Linked DNA regions of Homo sapiens. The protein of the gene in region 1 interacts with the protein of each later gene in a pairwise test. Each region holds a gene or a part of one and is shown in the gene's direction. Other genes may lie near its edges.

Region 1 (7,000 bases):
CTACTCAGGAGACTGAGGCAGGAGAATCGCTTGAAGCTAAGACGGGGAGGTTGCAGTGAGCTGAGACTGAGCCACTGCACTTCAGCCTGGGCAATGGAGTGAGACTCTTGTCTCGAAATATATATATATATTTGACCTGCAGTGGGTTGAATCCATGGATGTGGAACTTGTGCATATACAGATCTGACTGTACATATATGTGTGTGTTTGTGTGTGTGTGTATGTATAGCTTTCATAGCTTCCTGCTACCTATTGATTTTGGAAACTCCTCGCTGTGCTGCATCTGCCATGTCTCACACCATTACCCTTCCCATTCTTACACCTTAGCCAACAGGACCACTTTGCAATTCATACCCCAAACCTGTGCTTTCCCACCTCTGTCAGCAATTGCCCCAGTCTTAAAAAGAATGATTGTCTGGTATCACCATGATGGTCGCGTATGTGAATTAAACGTGTGCTCTGGTGCAATGGTAATGGGCAGGGCCTCTGTCTCACTCTAGGTTGTGAAATTATGCCGGGAGTGCCTGGAGAAGCAGGAGCCAGTGTTTGCTGACACCAACATCTACATGCTGCGGATGCTGAGCATTGTTTCGGAGGTCCTTTCCTACCTCCAGGCCTTTGAGGAGGCCTCGTTCTATGCCAGGAGGATGGTGGACGGCTATATGTAGGTGACGATTCTAGGTCTCAGATAGTCTCCTGGAAGTGTGTGTATTCCAGGGATGGCAAATAGATGGCACATTTACTGGTGCCTCTCCCTCCTATACCCACAGCAGGCGTCAGTAATCCATCATGGTTCTCTTTTTGACTGAGTCTTTTTATCATGGTGCTCCAGTGTTAATGACCAATCAGAGTTTGTGCTTGAGATGAAACCTATTTGTCATCCCTGGTCTTTCCCAAATTCTCCAGCACATCTATCACTTGGGTGGCATCTTCTGCTTTTGACTTCCTTCAGGCTAACCCCAGCTTGATTTTAAGTGATTGGACCCTGCCCTCCACCCTGTAATCAACACAGGCAAGTCTAGGAGCTTTTATTTATTTATTTATTTATTTTTAAAAGAGCCATCAATCACTTTGCTTAAAAATTGTAAAATTCTGGCCAGGCGCGGTGGCTCACGCCTGTAATCCCAGCATTTTGGGAGGCCGAGGCGGGAGGATCACGAGGTGGGGAGATAGAGACCATCCCGGCTAACATGGTGAAACCCCGTCTCTATTAAAAAATACAAAAAATTAGTCAGGCATGGTGGAGGGCACCTGTAGTCCCAGCTACTTGGGAGGCTGAGGCAGGAGAATGGCGTGAACCTGGGAGGCGGAGCTTGCAGTGAGCCTAGACTGCGCCACTGCACTCCAGCCTGGGCGACAGAGCAAGACTGTCTCAAAAAAAAAAAATTGTAAAATTCAATTCCCTTGCCTTCCATCTGCCAATACCCTCTCTTGCTTTCTGTGTTTATGTTGTCATGCAAATTTGTGTTTCTGGCCAAATAAGTTGACACACGTTCATTTCTTTGAGAGGATGTTAGTCATAAACAAAATGTAGATAAACTGTACAACATGCTAAGGAAGCCCTGCAAAAGGGTGCCAACCAGGTGAAAATACAATGCTGTCTCAAAAAGGACATTTAAATTATTTTTTTCTCCCTTGACCTTCCTACCACTTTTTGGGGAGACGTCTGAGGTACTCCCAAATGCTGTGAGCTTCCTGTGCTCAAGCTCAGATAATATGGAGTCTACAGAGGCAGGGAGGCCTCCTTGAGCTGCAGTGGGCTCCTCCCAGTTCGAGCTTCCCAGCGGCTTTGTTTACCTACTCAAGCCTCAGCAATGGCGGGCGCCCCTCCCCCAGCCTCGCTGCCGCCTTGCAGTTTGATCTCAGACTGCTGTGCTAGCAATGAGCGAGGCTCCATGGGTGTAGGACCCTCCGAGCGAGGCGTGGGATATAATCTCCTGGGGTACCATTTGCTAAGACCATTGGAAAAGCGCAGTATTAGGGTGGGAGTGACCCAATTTTCCAGGTGCTGTCTGTCACCCCTTTCCTTGGTTTGGAAAGGGAATTCCCTGACCCCTTGCACTTCCCAGGTGAGGTCATGCCTTGCCCTGCTTCGGCTTACACTCGGTGCGCTGCACCCACTGTCCTGCACCCACTGTCCGACAATCCCCAGTGAGATTAACCTGGTACCTCAGTTGAAAATGCAGAAATCATTCGTCTTCTGCGTCGCTGACGCTGGGAGCTGTAGACTGGAGCTGTTCCTATTCGGCCATCTTGGCTAGAGTCCCCAAGCTCAGAAAGTATGATCCTGGTCCCTTTTTCTCACAAGGAGTTGGCTGGGCAGCCCAGGCCGGAGTTTCAGCTGTCACAGCCTCACTGTGTAGAATGTTTGGCAACTTGTTCCATATCTCTGTGCCTCAGTTCCCCCTTGGCGGCTACAGAAGCCTTGCAGTGCTGAGGGGAAGACAGATGGGCTTAATCAACAAGGGCACTTTATACATTATTAAATTAAGTGCAGATATAAGGGTGATTGGTATGATGTATAATTATCTGCTATGCTCCCACAGGAAGCTCTACCACCCCAACAATGCCCAACTGGGCATGGCCGTGATGCGGGCAGGGCTGACCAACTGGCATGCTGGTAACATTGAGGTGGGGCACGGGATGATCTGCAAAGCCTATGCCATTCTCCTGGTGACACACGGACCCTCCCACCCCATCACTAAGGACTTAGAGGCAAGTAGCGTCTTGAGGCTGGTGTTCCCTTCCTGGCCTGAGCTTTCTGAGGATGGGAGTGTGAGTTCAGGTGGACTCTGCTTTAGAAAAGTCCACATACTCCCAGCTAGACAAAAGGGAACTCAGAAACGCTTTAGCCCACTACCCTTGTGTGTTAGACTGTTCATGTTACCCTAAATGAATACCTGAGACTGGGTAATTTATAAAGAAAAGAGGCTTATGTTGGTTCATGGTTCTGCAGACTGTATAGGAAGTGTGGTGCTGGCATCTGCTTCTGGTGAGGGCCTCAGGAAGCTTCTAATCATGCCAGGAGGGAAAGGGAGCCAGTGTGTCACCTGATGAAAGAGGGAGCAAGAGAGAGAGGCAGAGGTGCCAGGCTTTTTTCAACAAGCAGATCTGGTGTGAACTCAGAGCGACAACTCACTCCTACCAAGTGGGTGGCACTAAGCAATTCACGAGGGATCTGCTCCCATGACTCAAGCACGTCTACCAGGCCCCACCTCCAACACTGGGGATCACATTTCAATGTGAGATTTGGAAGGGACAGATATCCAAACCATATCACCTTGCTTCACACATGAGGAAACTGAGGCCCAGGGAAGGAGGACAATCTGTCCATAGTCACATAGCGAGCTAATGGCAAAGCTAAGACTTGAAGCCTGAGTCTGTTGAATCATAACACCCCAAGCCTGGACTGAGGAAGCGTAAACAATGGGGTGTGCATGTGTGCGTGTGTGCATGCACACAGCCATTTATATTAGAAAGTATTCTGTGTAACATGGAGTGGAGTTAGGGATCACAGGCTCTGGAATCAGACCTCCAGGTTGAGTTCCAGCTTCACCGCTTTCTGGTTGTGTGATTTTGCAAATATTGAATGTATGGCTGTCAGTCTCCTCATCAGTAAAATAGGGGGAAAGGATAGGGTTGTGATGCGTGTTCATGAGTCAATGTGTGAAATGCACTTAGTGCCTGGCAAATGGTGCTGCTGATGTCCTTGGTGCTTTGAAAAGCTGGTTTATTTGAGAGTGACAGGGCTGTCCTCAGACAGTACAGTCTAGGGAAGGTGGACAGACTTTGGTGTTATAAAATGTAGGATGACTATGACATTTAGGACTGGCGTGGTCTCAGACATGGATGTCCTCTTACTATTCAGATCCCAGGTTTCCTCATCTATAAAATGGAAATAATATATTAGCCCCTTAAAATTGGCAGGAGGACCAAGTGAGGGGCAGAGAAGCGGACTAACTAGCTTTATGTTTAGGGTACCGAGCCTGTCAAAGGCAGAGCCTTTGTCAATTTTACTCACAGCTGTATCCTCGGCCTCTGAATGCCTGGCCCTTAAGAAGTATTTCTTGAATGGACATGTGGGAGGATGAGGGCTCTTCTGTGTGTCACACACTGTCATCTTCCCAACCCACGGTAAGGTATGAAGCCACAAAATGGGTGAGAAAACTGACGGCTGAAGCGATTATGTCTCTTGCCTGAGGTCCCACACTAGTATCTGCAGGGGCCAGGGTTCAAATCCAGGTCCCCACTGGGCAGTTCCTGGGAACAAGCATTCTTTTCTGAGAACGGTTCCTTCAGCTACTCTCTCAGGGTTCTGACTCCCTCTCCCTGACAAAGTGGGCCCACTGCCAGGACATTAGGCCCTTGATGAATGAGTGTGTGTGTGTGTGTGTGTGTGTGTGTGTGTGTATTCTGAGGGGGTAGAGTTGAATCTCCGTGGCTGGAAATAATTTACCCCAAGGTATATCAGAGACCAGCATGTCCTAGGGGCTTGCTATCACTGTTTACGGTGTATCTGTGTCCCACAGGCCATGCGGGTGCAGACGGAGATGGAGCTACGCATGTTCCGCCAGAACGAATTCATGTACTACAAGATGCGCGAGGCTGCCCTGAACAACCAGCCCATGCAGGTCATGGCCGAGCCCAGCAATGAGCCATCCCCAGCTCTGTTCCACAAGAAGCAATGAGGACTGCCCAGTGGAGGAGGGGCGATGTGGCTGGGGAGCTAGGGAGAGACTCTGGAGGTGGTGGGTCTCTCGGGAGACCCCTAATGAGGAAGTTGAGGTAATGCTTAACATTGTTGCTGTGAGAATTTACTGCCCTATGTTTCCCAGAGCCATTTTGGCTCAATTCAAGTCTATTCAATTCAAGTTAACTCTAGCCCAGCCCAGATCAACTCCTCCTACAAATATTATTGGATGATAGGCCCTAGAACCCAATAAAGGAGCTCCAAATGTCGTTGGGTGGGGAAGCAAAATGTAGAGAAACATTTAAAGCACACTGTAATAATAAATGCAATTATAAACTATATGGAGGAGGGTGCAGAGGAGGGAATGTGTCTGGTGTGTGATGTGTGTGTGTGCAGTGGGGGTATCACAGAGAGTATGACATCTGAGTTGAGGGTAGCAGGTGCCTGGAGTCTCAGGTGGCTGCTCACCCATCTGTGCAGGTGTCTCTGGGGCTGCTGGTCTCACCTGTGGTCTGCAGTAGACACAATTGGCTGAGCAGGATATGTGATACTGTGTGGTTGGTGTGGAGTTTTGAAGAAGGGGCTGTGTTTGGGCCACGTAGGCTCTACTCAGAGACCTGAAACCACTTCAGAATGGTGCATATGTCGAAAGAGCTGGCTGGGGGCCTTGCCCAAACCAACTGAGGTCTTAAAGTCCAGGGAAAAAAAGTCTGGGTTCCAACTAGAATTCTAGAAATATTTCTAGAACACACAGAGAGGGAATAAGTCCCTCTATCACCCTTATTACCAAGCCTTGTGGTTCCCTGTGATTTTAGATAATGTCTGATATTTTTCTGGCTATTTGCCTAGTAGGATTTAAAAAATATTTTCAAAGTGAAGCTGAGAGAGAATCTTGGAAACACACATACCTGTTGATCATGGGCCCTGCAGAATTGGCCCTTGGGGGCTTTATTTGGTTACATGTGCCTGGGTGGTCTTTACCAGCTTAGACTCTATCATGGGCCCCCATGAAGCTCCATTCTCAATACTGAATAATTATTACTTCCCTTGTTGAGTTTCTTTTTCTGTCATGCCCTGGGGGCTTCTGCTCTTCTCACCAGAAAGAACATTTGAATCTGGATTCTTGTACACCTGGGTTAGACCCTGTTCAGAGGTGTGGCCAATTTATCCCGATCTCCTGGAAGGCTGTTGTGATTTCCATCTAAGAAATGAGGGTCTTGAGAATCAACCAGTCCCAAGATTAGCCTGTTATCCTGTTATCTACTGAGACCCCAAATTTCTCACCAATGTTTTGGGAGATCCTGGAAAAGATCCCTTCAGTTTGGGGTGTCACCAAGACTTCTACACAACCCAGGACTACCATTGACCTCAGAGCTGTACCCCACATCTTGAAGTAAATTGATCCCACCAGGTCCCACGTTTGTTATCTCTGCCTAAATGTTAGCTTCTCCATCCTCACCACATGATGACCTGCTGTGTCCCTCTGAGCACTACCCAGTGGCTGAAAACTCTGCAAATGGGCCACACTTTTGCAAAATACTTGTATCTGACACTTAGGTCTTGTTTGAAGAATTTCCTTTCTGGAAGGTTTTACAAGAAGACTGATAGTCTTTCAAGCCCCCACATCACAGGCTTAGGGACGGCACTAACTTTCTCCCAGGGATCTAACTGGCTAGTTCAAATTATCACTCTTTTACCTTCATATAAAATGTCTCCCCCAAACCTTTTTCCCTTCTTTGTCATTGTTATCTGCTAAGCCCCTGGTCATTTCCCCATATTCGTAGTCTTTTTTTCCATCCTATCTTTCTAATATTTGTTGTCTTTAACAAACTGTGTTCTGTGTCTGTGCTCCTCCTTCCCTCTCAGACCACTGGAATGCAAGTCCTTCTTCCCTTTGGAATGTACTCTGGATCCCTTCCCCTGCTTTGACCCCCAGACTTTGCTCCATCTATTATTGCTTCTCCATCCTGGATCCTTGACATTTGTCACCCCACTGGCCTTCTCAGGTGCAATCAGTAAAAATGCTGAGAACTCTTGGATCTTAATCTTCATGACTGAGTTTTTTTTAGTTGTATAGTTATCATCTGCCTTTCTTCACTTTGCATTTCTTCTTGAATCCATTGCAGATTGACTTCCACTCCCACTCCTTCACTAAAAGGGCTCTTACCAAGATCAAATCTAATGGGTACATTTTAGTTCCTATGTGATTTGGCCTTTCGATGTCAATCATCACTCCCAGCCATTGATTTTGGTGACCCACTTCCCTGTGATGATCTTCTGATCTAGTTTCTCAGGTTCCTTCGCTGGTCC
Region 2 (7,166 bases), on another chromosome or scaffold:
TATTAGTGATTTTTAAGTAGCAATGGGACATATCTGGCATATTTAATAAGGATACAAATTTAGAAGTTGTTCAGAATAGATATTCACCACCACCACCACCACTACCTCCTCTGCGCTAGGACTCCTCACTTCAGCTTTTGATTCTCTTCTTTTTCTACTCAATCCAAAATGGACACACAAGAACACAAGATACTCTAGTGTCTTTATTATGATTTTGATTACTATAGGGTCTACCCTACCTGTTATAATTCTCATGAGCCATTCTGGTTGTGGTTTTCTCTTAGTTCAAAGCCAGATTCTTCCAGGGAAGTACCAGCTATACAGCTGTGCCTTGATTTAAGCCACCATTCTGTTTCAGGAAGTGTTCCATAACTGGTGTTTTGTGTAAGTGAAAACTGAATGCATATAGTACACCAAATATGTTGTTTGCAGTACTGTATGTTACACTGAAATATCAAGCTGATGCCGAGAATGTGAAGGACATCAAGCCACCTAAACGAAAGTAAAATGCTTCCTTACAGCTTTTAATACTTATAAATGTGCCTGCCTTATATTCCCATCTGGCAGTATTCATCCTCACACTGGACTGCTTTGTTCCTTATGCTTTATTTTCCTTATCTCTAAAGTGTTATTGTGTCTTTATATAATAGGACACAAATGAGGTTAAGTAGACGTCAAGCATTGCCATCATAAAGTGTTCTCCAGCTTGGATTTGGTGGTGTTCTCGGTGGGCCACAATTTGTAAATGGTAGTTTAGCACCTGGCCATGCAAGCAGTGCCTCCCAGGCCATTTCAGCTGTGTCCTGGATGAACCTGGAAGGCGAAAGGTGGAACTATCACATAGGCAACTGACACACCGATCACAAAGGATCCAAATTATGGATGCAGTTCTAAAGCACTGGTTTTCATACATTTTTTTAAGTGGCAAATACATTCTGAAATTGTATTTAAACCCCAAAATGTAAAAGTATAGAATCACAGATACACTGGTTTCCTCATCGCTAACTAGAATTAGGGCTCTGCAAAAATAGATTGAAAACAGTGAATGTTAAATGATTCAGTCTTTGTCCCAGTTACCCCATTGTCTAGGAGGAGCATTACTTCACATCAAAATCACCTCCATGAAGTTGAAGTCATGATAAAAGCTGCTATTTATTGAGCCCTTACTTTGTTCTAGTTATAATGTCAAGTGCACTTTTTCATTTAGTCATAAACTTGCTGGGTAGGTGCTTTTTTGCTTTTTTCTTCTCTTTTTGAGACAGGGTCTCTGTCACCCAGGCTGTGGTGCAGTGCACAATCTCGACTCACTGCAACCTCCACCTCCCAGGCTCAAGCAATCCTCCCACCTCAGCCTCCCGAGTAGCTAGGACTACAGTTGCGCCACCATGCCCAGCTAATATTTTGTATTATTATTATTATTATTATTATTATTATTATTATTATTTGTAGAGACAGTTTCACCATGTTGCCCAGGCTGGCCTCAAACTCCTGGGCTCAAACCATCTGCCCACCTTGGCCTCCCAAGGTGTTGGCATTACAGGCATGAGCCACTGCGCTCGGCCCAAGGTGCTTTTTTTCTCATGAGAAACTAAGACTTAGAGAAGTTAAATAACTGCCTGAGGACAAGCAGCATTCTAGGAAGTGGAGTTGCATTAATTTGTCTCACCCCGGACATCCATCCCCTAACATTTGCTCTATGCCCTGCCTATGCATAACACCTAGCACGTAGTACTCTTACGTACTCTCTGCACTGTCTTCACTTTGTTACATAGGAGGAAACCAGGCTCATGTAAGTTAAGTAACTTGCCTGAGATCACATAGCTGATAAGTGGCAGAACCGGGATTCAAACTCAGAGGTTGGCCTTATTGAAGAATTCATATTTCTACCCGTCATGCCATGCTGCCTCCATTGACCCTCTTAAGGGGCTCTTCAAGCAGTATTGCTTTCAGGGTCTGCGTGGCCTCAGTTAGTTAGATTTGCTTGTTAAAAGGAAATGGTGACACGTATTAAAATGCTTCTGAATTTTAAAAATCATGGTGTAAAATCCCTGCGATCACATTGCTCTAAATGTATGGACTTGAGGTTTATTTTTGCAATTCATCGTGTAGCATTTACATAGGAATCCTGTCCTGTCCTTAGCAGATCAGGAGTAATACTTAAAAACACAGATAGAAGGCTGGGCCCGGTGTTTCACGCCTGAAATCCCAGCACTTTGGGAGGCTGAGGCAGGCAGATGACGAGGTCAGGAGATCAAGACCATCCTGGCCAACATGGTGAAATCCTGTCTCTACTAAAATACAAAAAAGCCAGGTGTGGTGGCGTGCGCCTGTAGTCCTAGCTACTCAGGAGGCTGAGGCAAGGGAATCACTTGAACCCAGGAGGCGGAGGTTGCAGTGAGCCAAGATCGTGCCACTGCACTCCAGCCTGGCGACAGAGCAAGACTCCGTCTCCAAATAAAATAAAATAAAATAAAATAAAATAAAATAAAATAAAATAAAATAATAAAATAAAATAAAATAAAATAAAATAAAAATAAAAATATAAAAATAAAAATAAAATATAACAGATGTGATTCCCCTAAGAGTAAAGGGTGATGGATGTGTTAAAGGGTCTCTAGTGCCCACACAGGGAGCTGAGTTAAAAATTGTCAACAGAATATTCTGGGAAATAACTTGAGCAGTTATTTCAGGAAAGCAGCACAGTCAAAGGCTATTCCTGCAGTCCCCATACCCATAATCCTGGGAGCAGTGGTGCTGCTGGGTAGCTTGCAGGAGCTGGTTACAATTTATAATGAGCCTGTCCACCTGGTCTTGAGGAGAAAGCTGGGCTGAAAAGTTAAGCTCAGGAGACCTTCTGCCCTGTGTGGAGGGGGCTGTTAGTGACTGAGGGAGCTTTCTGGGCTCCCTGGGGAGAAGCTGAGCTGTTGGAAGAGACAAAGGCTGGGGGAGGGGATAACCTTTGTTCCAAGGCTGACTTGGAGGAGGAAACATTCCCCTCTCTATTTTCACATGACCTAAAGGGTTAGGGGAGTGAGCCTCATTTATCCCCAATCTCTGACCCATGTCTCTCATCCAACCAAGAGATGGAAAAAATAAAGCTATCAGGTTTGGGCTTAGGGCTTAAAGGTACTGTCAGTCGCCTTCCCCCAACACTCCACCACCAAGAAGGGAAAGAAAAAAGGGGGGCTGGGCAGAGGACAGTGCTGTCCTACCTTCCAGATATTCATCAGTTGTATTCCCAATCTGTTGATCCACATTCTAAATATAAATTGTTAGCAGCCAAAGAGTTAGTAACAAGCCAGGAACAATGTTGTGCACCTGTAGTTCTAACTACTCAGGAGGTTGAGGCAGGAGGGTCACTTGATCCCAGGAATTCGAGGCTGTAGTGCATTATGATTGCACCTATGCATAGCACGCCAGCCTGGGCAACATAACGAGAACTTGTCTCTAAAAAAAAATAGTGGCCAGGCGCGGTGGCTCATGCCTGTAATCCCAGCACTTTGGGAGGCCAAGGCAGGTGGATCACCTGAGGTCAGGAGTTCGAGACCAGCCTGGCCAACATAGCATTAGATATGAGTTCTAAATTTCTCTTCAAAGAATCAATATGTCAGTATGTTCAATTCTTTGCCTTCTACTTTTAAACTTAACTTCCTTGTAAAGCAACCTTTTTCGATCACCTGCTCCACCCTGACTCATTCCGATTACCTGCTCTGCCCTGACTCATTCTCCACCCTGACTCCTTCCGATTTCCTGCTCTGCCATAACCATTTTCCCCACCAAACCACTCACCCGGTCACTCTCTTTAAATTAGCCAATCGGAATTAGTTTAGCCTGTGCGGTCTAACCCTAGCCAATATGGGAATGACAGCGGCAGGGGCCACCTGTGTCAGGAATAAGAACTTCTTCCCCTCTTTTGTCCAGGTGTGTGCTCACCACTGCTCCATCTATGAGGGCGCACCCTTCTATAGAAGTAAATTGCCCTACTGAGAAGAAAAAAAAAAGAAAATTTTATATTCGATTGCTATTTCTTTTGTGGCACCGAAACTTTATTTATAACAATAGTGAAACTTCGTCTCTACTAAAAGTACAAAAATTAGCTGGGCATCATGGTGCACGCTTGTAATTCCAGCTACTCAGGAGGCTGAGGCAGGAGAATCACTTGAACCCGGGAGGTGGAGGTTGCAGTGAGCCAAGATCACGCCACTGCACTCCAGCCTGGGTGACAGAAAGACTCTGTCTCAAAAAAAAAAATAGTTATTAACAATTCTGGCCAGGCGCCGTGGCTCACGCCTGTAATCCCAGCACTTTGGGAGGCCGAGGCCGGTGGATCACTTGAGGTCAGGAGTTCGGGACCAGCCTGGTTAACATGGTAAAACCTCGTCTCTACTAAAAATACAAAATGTAGCAGGGCATGGTGGCACACGCCTGTAGTCCCAGCTATTCAGGAGGCTGAGGCACAAGAATCACTTGAACCCAGGAGGCGGAGGCTGCAGTAAGCTGAGATCATGCCACTCTACTCCAGTCTAGGCAACAGAGCAAGATCCTGCTCAAAAACAAACAAACAAACAAACAATTCTGAGGGCCGGGTACAGTGGCTCACTCCAGTAATCTCAGCAGTTTGGGAGGCTGAGGTGGGAGGATCACTTGAGGCTAGGAGTTTGAGACCAGCCTAGGCCACATAGTGAGACCCTGTCTACAAAAAATTTTAAAATTAGCCGGATATGGCTGCATGTACCTGTAGTCCTAGCTACTTGGGAGGCTGAGGTGGGAGGATTGCTTGAGCCTAAGAGTTCAAAGCTGCAATGAGCCATGATCATGCCACTGCACTCCAGCCTAGGCAACAGAGTGAGACCCTGTCTCTTGAAAAAACAAAAACAAAAATGCACACACACACAAACCAGTTGAAATTATTGCTCCTCTTGTTTTTGTGGTTGAGTCTTCACTATGTGATTCTTGTTCCATGAATTTAGAAGGTGAGAGTTGGTGGATAGCTTCTAGAAGTGGGTTTGAATAGGAAAGATAAAGGCTGTATCAGAGCTATGATGGTGCCACTGCACTCCAGCCTGGGTGGCCTGGGTGACAGAGCAATATTATCTCTTTAAAAAAAAACAACCCACCAGCTGGGTGTGGTGACTCATGCCTGTAATTCCAGCTTTGGGAGGCCAGAGGCAGGTGGATCACGAGGTCAGGAGTTCAAGACCAGCCTGGCCAAGACGGTGAAACCCCATCTCTACTAAAAATACAAAAAGTAGCCGGGCGTGGTGGCGGGCACCTGTAATCCCAGCTACTCGGGAGGCTGAGGTAGAGAATTGCTTGAACCTGGGAGGTGGAGGTTGCAGTGAGCCAAGATCATGCCACTGCACTCCAGCCTGGGCGAGAGAGTGAGACTCCATCTCAAAACACACGCACACACACACAGACACACACATACACACTAAAAAAAGCTATATCAGGATCAGTTTTCCTTCTTAACTTCTAAAGACAGATTTTTTTTTTTTTTGATAGGGTCTCACTCTATCACCCAGGCTGGAGTGCAGTGGTGCAATCATAGCTCACTGCAGCCTCAACCTCTCAGGCTCAAGCAGTCCTCCTGCCTCAGCCTCCCAAGTAGTTGGGACGACAGGCACGAACCACCATGCCCAGCTGATTTTTAAATTTTTTGTAGTCTCACTGTGTTGCCCAGGCTGGTATCAAAGCTCTGGGCTCAAGCAATCCTCCCACCTCGGCCTCCCGAAGTGCTGGGATTACAGGCATGAGCCACCATGGCTGGCTTTAAAGACAGATTTTTTTCTTGGAACAACACTCACCAGTCATGTGGCTTGGGGTAATTTAACGTCTATGGACTTTGGTCCACAGAAAATGGGAATTAAAGCAGGGTCTGATGACTTAAGTTTATGAAAATTAAATAAGAAATTGTTGAGGCACTTAAAAAGCAATACAACATGATACAAATACAGATTAAATTGTTCTGGTGTCCAGCAGTTAGTTTGGTAGAAATTGAGCAGTGTGTCAGAAGAGGAGACCCAGTGATTGAGCTGTTTGTCTTCTTATTGCAGCTATCTCTGAAGGGCACAAATCAGAAGGCACCATGCCTCCTAATAAAGAGGCCAGCGGTCTCAGTAGTTCACCAGCGGGGCTCATCTGCCTCCCTCCAATCTCTGAGGAGCTACAGCTTGTGTGGACGCAAGCAGCCCAGACCAGTGAGCTAGACAGCAATGAACACCTGCTCAAAACCTTCAGCTACTTTCCCTATCCCAGCCTAGCAGACATTGCCCTTCTCTGCCTACGTTATGGGTTGCAGATGGAGAAAGTCAAGACTTGGTTTATGGCCCAGCGCCTCCGCTGTGGTATTAGCTGGTCATCTGAAGAAATAGAAGAGACTCGAGCCCGAGTAGTCTACCGTCGGGACCAACTCCATTTCAAATCCCTTCTCTCTTTTACTCATCATGCGGGACGGCCCCCAGAGGAGGTGCCTCCTCCTCCAGTGCCAGCTCCAGAGCAAGTTGGTATTGGAATAGGTCCTCCAACTCTTAGCAAGCCTACCCAGACGAAAGGATTGAAGGTAGAGCCTGAGGAGCCCTCTCAGATGCCACCACTGCCACAGAGTCACCAGAAATTAAAGGAGTCCCTGATGACACCTGGCAGTGGAGCATTCCCCTACCAATCAGATTTTTGGCAACATCTTCAAAGCAGTGGCCTCTCAAAGGAGCAGGCAGGCAGGGGTCCCAACCAGTCACATGGCATAGGTACTGCTTCCTGGAACCACTCCACAACCGTCCCCCAGCCACAAGCTCGGGATAAACCCCCACCAATTGCATTAATTGCCAGTAGTTGTAAGGAGGAGTCAGCATCTAGTGTTACTCCCTCTTCTTCCTCTACCTCTTCTTCTTTCCAGGTACTGGCTAATGGAGCTACTGCCGCCTCTAAACCCCTCCAGCCACTAGGCTGTGTCCCACAGTCAGTGTCACCCAGTGAACAGGCATTACCCCCACATCTGGAACCAGCCTGGCCCCAAGGGCTACGGCATAACTCAGTACCAGGTAGAGTTGGCCCCACAGAGTACCTTTCCCCAGATATGCAACGCCAGCGAAAGACCAAGCGCAAAACCAAAGAGCAGCTGGCTATCCTTAAATCCTTTTTTTTACAGTGCCAGTGGGCACGGCGTG
Region 3 (7,166 bases), on another chromosome or scaffold:
TTTAAATTTTTTTAAACGTTCATCTTCAAATATTTATGAGAAATGGGAAATAGAGTCAGTAGGCAAATTTAACACACCAATTAAATTTAATACACCAAAATGTATTCATTTAAATTTAATCAAAAGTAGATCTTCTCTTAATAATATCCCCTGAGTTTTTAAAAAGCCTGAAGAATGACAATTTGCCTTCCTTCTACCTGCCTGCTTTTAAAACATCTTTCCTGATATTGTTTGGCCATTTGTATTTCCCCATGTATAATTTGCTTTTCTTATTCTTTGCTCACTTTTCTTTTGTGTATGGGGGGGCAGGGTGGAGGGAGAAATGGCTGTTTAATTGATTTGGGCAGTTCTTTATATGTTCTGAAATAATTCTTTACCTGATAAAACTGTATTTTCTCCTTTTCTGTTTTTCCTGTCCTATTTAACCAGCCAAGACGTAGACCAAAGATGAGAGTTAGAGTAAAAACTAAGGCTATAGAAAATCTGCAAAGTAAATGTTTATTTAGTAGGACCTGGAGTTTAAATGTCACAAATAAACTGGCTTAGTTTCCAGCATCATCCAAGATAGACGTTTGGTGGGTCAGGAGGTGGAAGCCCAGTATTCCTGCTCTAACTCTGTGTTCTTCCTCTGGAGGCCATCCCAACCCTAAACTTCAGTACAGTACCCAGTGGAGATCATTTGTTCTCCAACAGAAAACACAACATGTCACCTCCCCACCAGCCTGCAAAATTATGCATTTTGTATATTCCAATGGAGGCTCCAGTTGTTTTCAGTGTTATGCACTAATAAACTAACATTTTGGACCATTTGGTGATCACCATTTGTCCCAAACTAGTGATTAAATGCTAAATAGTATGTATTTTTTAGCTGGAACAATGAACTGTCGATTATCATGACTTTGATATTTGACCCCAATGAGATGAGGACAGCATAAGCATTTTTATTTAATGTTGTCTTGTAACAACTTCTGTTGAGTTTTAGTCATTGGGCTGAATAAAGTTATTCACATTTAATTTAAATTGGGCATGGTTCTTTCTCTTTGAGCTCAGGGGCCTTTTAAAATTATATCATGCATAACACATTATGATTATATGCTCTACAAAGAAATGATATCAGAAGCCACTTCAGGAGAATAGGCAGGTGATATGTTGGACAGTTAAAAAATAAAAAAAATTAAACAGGATGCTGCTGGAAATTTAAAGGAAAGCAGTTACTCTTCTTTTTTTTATTTTAATGGAGGCTTTGACCTGGTTGTATGTGCATTTTCAGAACATTTCAGTAAAGTTAGAGCAACATTTGAACAATGACCAGATAACAACCAGTCAGTGCTTTGCATTTCAGGAAACTCATAGAAGAAATGGAGGAAAAGCAGAAATCAGACAAGGCTGAACTGGAGCGGATGCAGCAGGAGGTGGAGACCCAGCGCAAGGAGACAGAAATCGTGCAGCTCCAGATTCGCAAGCAGGAGGAGAGCCTCAAACGCCGCAGCTTCCACATCGAGAACAAGCTAAAGGATTTACTTGCGGAGAAGGAAAAATTTGAAGAGGAGAGGCTGAGGGAACAGCAGGAAATCGAGCTGCAGAAGAAGAGACAAGAAGAAGAGACCTTTCTCCGCGTCCAAGAAGAACTCCAACGACTCAAAGAACTCAACAACAACGAGAAGGCTGAGAAGTTTCAGATATTTCAAGAACTGGACCAGCTCCAAAAGGAAAAAGATGAACAGTATGCCAAGCTTGAACTGGAAAAAAAGAGACTAGAGGAGCAGGAGAAGGAGCAGGTCATGCTCGTGGCCCATCTGGAAGAGCAGCTCCGAGAGAAGCAGGAGATGATCCAGCTCCTGCGGCGTGGGGAGGTACAGTGGGTGGAAGAGGAGAAGAGGGACCTGGAAGGCATTCGGGAATCCCTCCTGCGGGTGAAGGAGGCTCGTGCCGGAGGGGATGAAGATGGCGAGGAGTTAGAAAAGGCTCAACTGCGTTTCTTCGAATTCAAGAGAAGGCAGCTTGTCAAGCTAGTGAACTTGGAGAAGGACCTGGTTCAGCAGAAAGACATCCTGAAAAAAGAAGTCCAAGAAGAACAGGAGATCCTAGAGTGTTTAAAATGTGAACATGACAAAGAATCTAGATTGTTGGAAAAACATGATGAGAGTGTCACAGATGTCACGGAAGTGCCTCAAGATTTCGAGAAAATAAAGCCAGTGGAGTACAGGCTGCAATATAAAGAACGCCAGCTACAGTACCTCCTGCAGAATCACTTGCCAACTCTGTTGGAAGAAAAGCAGAGAGCATTTGAAATTCTTGACAGAGGCCCTCTCAGCTTAGACAACACTCTTTATCAAGTAGAAAAGGAAATGGAAGAAAAAGAAGAACAGCTTGCACAGTACCAGGCCAATGCAAACCAGCTGCAAAAGCTCCAAGCCACCTTTGAATTCACTGCCAACATTGCACGTCAGGAGGAAAAAGTGAGGAAAAAGGAAAAGGAGATTTTGGAGTCCAGAGAGAAGCAGCAGAGAGAGGCGCTGGAGCGGGCCCTGGCCAGGCTGGAGAGGAGACATTCTGCGCTGCAGAGGCACTCCACCCTGGGCATGGAGATTGAAGAGCAGAGGCAGAAACTTGCCAGTCTGAACAGTGGCAGCAGAGAGCAGTCAGGGCTCCAGGCTAGCCTGGAGGCTGAGCAGGAAGCCCTGGAGAAGGACCAGGAGAGGTGAGATTGGGAAGGAAGGGTGTGGCATACAGTGGGTGCCAAATGAGTGCTCATTTTTCACTCCTCATGTTGTGTTTATCCTTTTTTTTTTTTAACTTATTCTTTTAGCCTTCATATTCTTTAATACATAGGCAAATGCTTATATTTGCCAGAACTGAGAAAAGTACTCCTAAACTTCTTGTATTTCTCCTTAGTGTCCTTCTTTTAGAATTGTTAGCCTAGAGTTGAAAAACACACAAACAAAAGCAAAGCCCATGTACATTATCCCACTGTCCTATGGAATGTGCGTGTTTTAATATTTTGATAAATGCAAGACTAGAAAGTTTCCACTTTGATTTCTCCTTCTTTCTTATCTCCCTTGCCTGTCTCCCTCTCTTTCCCCTTTCTTCTTCCCCTTCAGTTCCCTCCTCTCCCTTCCATTGCATCTATTTCCTCCTCCTTTCTCTTCCTTTGCCCTCTCTCTTTCCTCTCCCTCCCCTTTCTTCCTTCCCTCCTTGCCCCTCTCTGACTTGCTCCCTGTCTCTTTCCTTCTCTCCCTATTTTCTTCCCTCCTCCCTCACCTCTTTCCATCTCTACTTCCCTGCCCTTTCTTACTAATGATTTCACATCTTCTCCATGACCAGCACTTGTTGAAATAAGTATCATCCCTGGGTTCATGGTTTGCATACAGGCTACTGATTTCTGCAACATGTTGGGAATGAAAAAATCAATACTTCTCCCACCCCTATTGAGTCACAGTATTTAAGAGAAGGCCTCAGGACTCTGCATTATAAAACAGTCAACCGAACCAACAAACAAAACTCCAGATAATTCTGAACACAGTGGGATATTAGAACATGTTTGGTGATTTACTGATAGTATTTTTGTTGTTGTGAAAAATAAAACTAGGAAATTAGCACTCTTGTCTTGTAAGGTAAGAATATTTATCTTCCTTCACCTATTTTCTGTCACCATACTTACCAGACCATAAGTTCTCAAAATGCATATTATGTGAATTTGAGGACACCTTTTCTGGAGCCTTGAAGACTTGATGGCAAGACTCACAGAAAGGCCAACAGCCACCTGGGTGATGCAAACATCACCCAATTTGGAGACTTGCAAGAGGAATTTATGGCCTGGTTCAGCCCCTTCCTATCAAGATGGTAGCATGTTCCTACCTTGGGCAGGATCTTTCATCACTGGGCCTCAGTGTCACCACTTGTACAAGAAGAGGATGGATGAGATCACAGGGTCTTGCTCTGGGTCCAGGCTGGAGTGCAGTAGTGTGATCATAGCTCACTGCAGCCTCAAACTCCTGGGCTCAAGCAATCCTCCTGCCCCAGCCACCCAAGTGGCTGGGACCCCAGGTGCATACTACCATGCCTGGCTATTTATTTATTTATTTATTTATTTTATGTATTTTATTTTTTTAGAGATGGGGTTTCCCTGTGTTGCCCAGTCTGGTCTCAAACTCCTAGGTTCAAGCAGTTCTCCCACCTGAGCCTCCTAAAGTGCCGGGATTATAGTCATGAGCCACCACTCCCTGCTCAGTTGAGATCTTAACTGAAGCTCAGATTGGAGAGATGAAACCTTGCCCTCTCCGCAGTACTCCCCCCACCCACAGCACCTCCTAAGGGGGCTTCAACAGAAGTCCAGTGTACTGGCCAGGAGACCCCACCTTGGCATTTAGCTGATGCATGGGGCTGGTTGCTGATAACAAGGAAGACCTACTCAGAAGTGTTACTGTAGCTTCACCCATCACATTGCCTGAAAAGTTCAGGACAACCTCCATTCAAATGATTGGCTTATGCTATGGATTACATTTACCATCGCTGTCTGGTAGTTCCCTCAGGCAAAACAGCAACAAAATAACAATCAAAAACCCTAATGCTGTTATTTCAGAGAAATAGGTTGGAGGTTTAAAAAAATGATTGCAGGTATGTTATGTAAATGAAATTGCTAGACAAAGATCCAGCCCCAGGAACTTTAAAGTAGTGGAGGGCACACTCTCAATTTGTAGCCTGTAGTGTGCAATAAGAATGCAGCATGAGCTTTTAGCTTGATGTCCTTGGCTTTTGTCACCTGGCCATTTAGTATTAATACTGTATAATAGCAGACACAGTATTGCAGTTTCCACGGAAGTGATTACACAATGGGAGTGTTCCTTCAGAAGCCAAGTAAAGGGGGCTGTTAGCTTCATGAGTTTTGATGAAATAGACTTAGCTAAGTCCTAATTCAGGCCGACGGATTCCGGGCTCTCTGCTCTGACTGCGATACCCCCGCAGCTTTCTATGGGAATTTCTGTTGTGCTTCATTTTCTCCCAGGGTTCTCACGGCTAAGCCAGGATTCACCGTGCAGCCTGACTTGGCCCCTCGTAAAATTCCACAAGTGTGAAATATTAAATTCATGTGGGACCAGACTGGACAACAGTGTCCTGAACTTGGCTCTCCCATTGCCTTCTCAGTGCTTTATGAACCAGGTTTAATCCATTTTCCTGCCTTTTTTCCTACCACCTGCTCATTCCAGCTGCCCCATTGACATGGATCAGGTAACCCAACTAGAAATACCTCCCATCACCATAGCAGGGATAACAGAGGCAAGTTGTTAATACTCACACTTAATCCTGTTTTCTTGTCAGAGTCCTTTAACAATGACGATGATAATAGTCATGATGAAAACCATGAAGAATAACTCTGTGTACCTCAGATCCTGCTTTAAATGCTGTGTGTGCATTGTCATTTACTCTTCCAATAAAGGGTGCCATCGTCTACAGTTTACACATGAGGAAGCTGAAGCCTGCAGTGGTTGTATAACCACTGGGGATGAGTGTCACACAGTTAGAAAGTGGCAGAGTTGCAAGTCAGATCTCAATCTCATCACCCATCTCTGATCCACTTAGCCCTCTAGTCTTCTGACCATGTATCTGCCACACGGGAAGGCCAGCTTGTCCCTTGCCATCCATATAAATCTCACTCAGACTTCAGGATACCTCTCAAACCCTTCTTTGCTCTGTGGAGTCTTTTCCACTGGCCATTGGCCCTGTGCTGAAGGACAATTCTTAACAACCCCAGCAGGAGTTTTCTTAACTGTAAACATTGCTAATTGCCTGCCTACATCCAGCTCATTTTTTTTTTTTTTTGGCCATTGATGATACCCTATTAATATTGCTCCCCAATTATTTGGCCACCACCAGGCCTCTGACATCATTTTTTTTTTTTTGCTTATGTCTTGTCTTTTGAAAATACTGTGTGTTCCACAAATTGATGCTCTAGAAGTACTTGCTAATCAATAAACCCAGAAAGGGCTGAGTTAAACTGGGCACAGCCTCGTGTGGGTCCCATGAGTGCTTACCCTCATGACCCTGTGATCCATTTCTGAAAATTCAGAACTTGGCTTTCATGTTCAAGATAGAGCAGTCAAATTGCTGCTGGTGACACCAGAGGGTTGACAGCATCATGGTGTGTTGGCATCTGAAGCCAGAATCTCTGATTTTTAGAGCTGAAGGAATTGAGGGAGATTAGTTGACGCTCTCATTTGATCCATGAAGAAATTGAGACCCGTGTTTAAATAACTTCCCCAAGCTCACACAGTGAGTGGACTGCAGTCTCCTGCTTCCTGGGGCCAAATTCACTGGCAAGGTTGGCCCTCTGGCCTGATGGGGCTGGATTCAAGTATGCCTGGGCCGGTGGGAGAATGACCTTACACACATTTGACCTCATATAGATGTATCACTTATCACTGGAGGTTAATTTTATGGTTTATTTTAGTTTCTCATGGAACTCAACCTACTTTCCTAGGCCTGTCTTTTCTGCTTCCCCTTCCCATGCCCTCTGCCTTAGCCCAAAGTGGATGCCTGGTTTTCATGCCCTTGCCCCATTGCTCGTATTGCTTTCTGCACTTAGATAATCTTCTGCCGTCATCTCCAAATGACAACATTCCCACTGGCCTCTGGAGACTCAACTTAGAACTGCCATGGCTATGAAATTTCTCCTAGATTGGTGGTTTTTAAAACTCTTTAAAACATAGATCTTTTTCATCAAACGTAAGTATTTACCAGAACCCTGATGTGTAGTCCACAACCAACTCTTTTTGAAGCAGCAGTTAGAGGCCTCAGAATCCTATACACCTACCTCTAGGACTTGCTTGGAGCACAGTGGAGAGATCTTTGCTCTTGGTAGTCAAAATTACTCTACCTTCTGGATGCCTGCAGTGCTCGTCCTGGACCCTTCTTGTGGCCCATGGCACTTTATGTCTTGTCTTATGGGTATGTGGCACCTTTTCTACTAGAAGGTAAAGTTCTTTGCACACAGAGGACAGATCTTGTTCCCCCATGCTATCTAAAGCAATGTCTCACACAGTAAGGATGCTCGGGAAATACTATTAATGAATGAATTATGTGGCTCCTATCTGTGTAGGTTAGAATATGAAATCCAGCAGCTGAAACAGAAGATTTATGAGGTCGATGGTGTTCAAAAAGATCATCAT

The links.
Region 2: the proteins of SMYD1 (region 1) and HOMEZ interact in binary tests that used the Homo sapiens proteins (3 or more experiments, as listed by UniProt).
Region 3: the proteins of SMYD1 (region 1) and KIF16B interact in binary tests that used the Homo sapiens proteins (3 or more experiments, as listed by UniProt).

What each region holds. Positions count from the first base shown.
Region 1 is NC_000002.12:88,105,825-88,112,824, forward strand, and holds part of SMYD1 (histone-lysine N-methyltransferase SMYD1), read left to right. Parts: intron 1-500; coding exon 501-664; intron 665-2,546; coding exon 2,547-2,715; intron 2,716-4,529; coding exon 4,530-4,688; 3' UTR 4,689-7,000. UniProt on the Homo sapiens protein: Methylates histone H3 at 'Lys-4' (H3K4me), seems able to perform both mono-, di-, and trimethylation. Acts as a transcriptional repressor. Essential for cardiomyocyte differentiation and cardiac morphogenesis.
Region 2 is NC_000014.9:23,276,078-23,283,243, reverse strand, and holds part of HOMEZ (homeobox and leucine zipper protein Homez), read left to right. Parts: intron 1-6,056; coding exon 6,057-7,166. UniProt on the Homo sapiens protein: May function as a transcriptional regulator.
Region 3 is NC_000020.11:16,374,340-16,381,505, reverse strand, and holds part of KIF16B (kinesin-like protein KIF16B), read left to right. Parts: intron 1-1,342; coding exon 1,343-2,701; intron 2,702-7,096; coding exon 7,097-7,166. UniProt on the Homo sapiens protein: Plus end-directed microtubule-dependent motor protein involved in endosome transport and receptor recycling and degradation.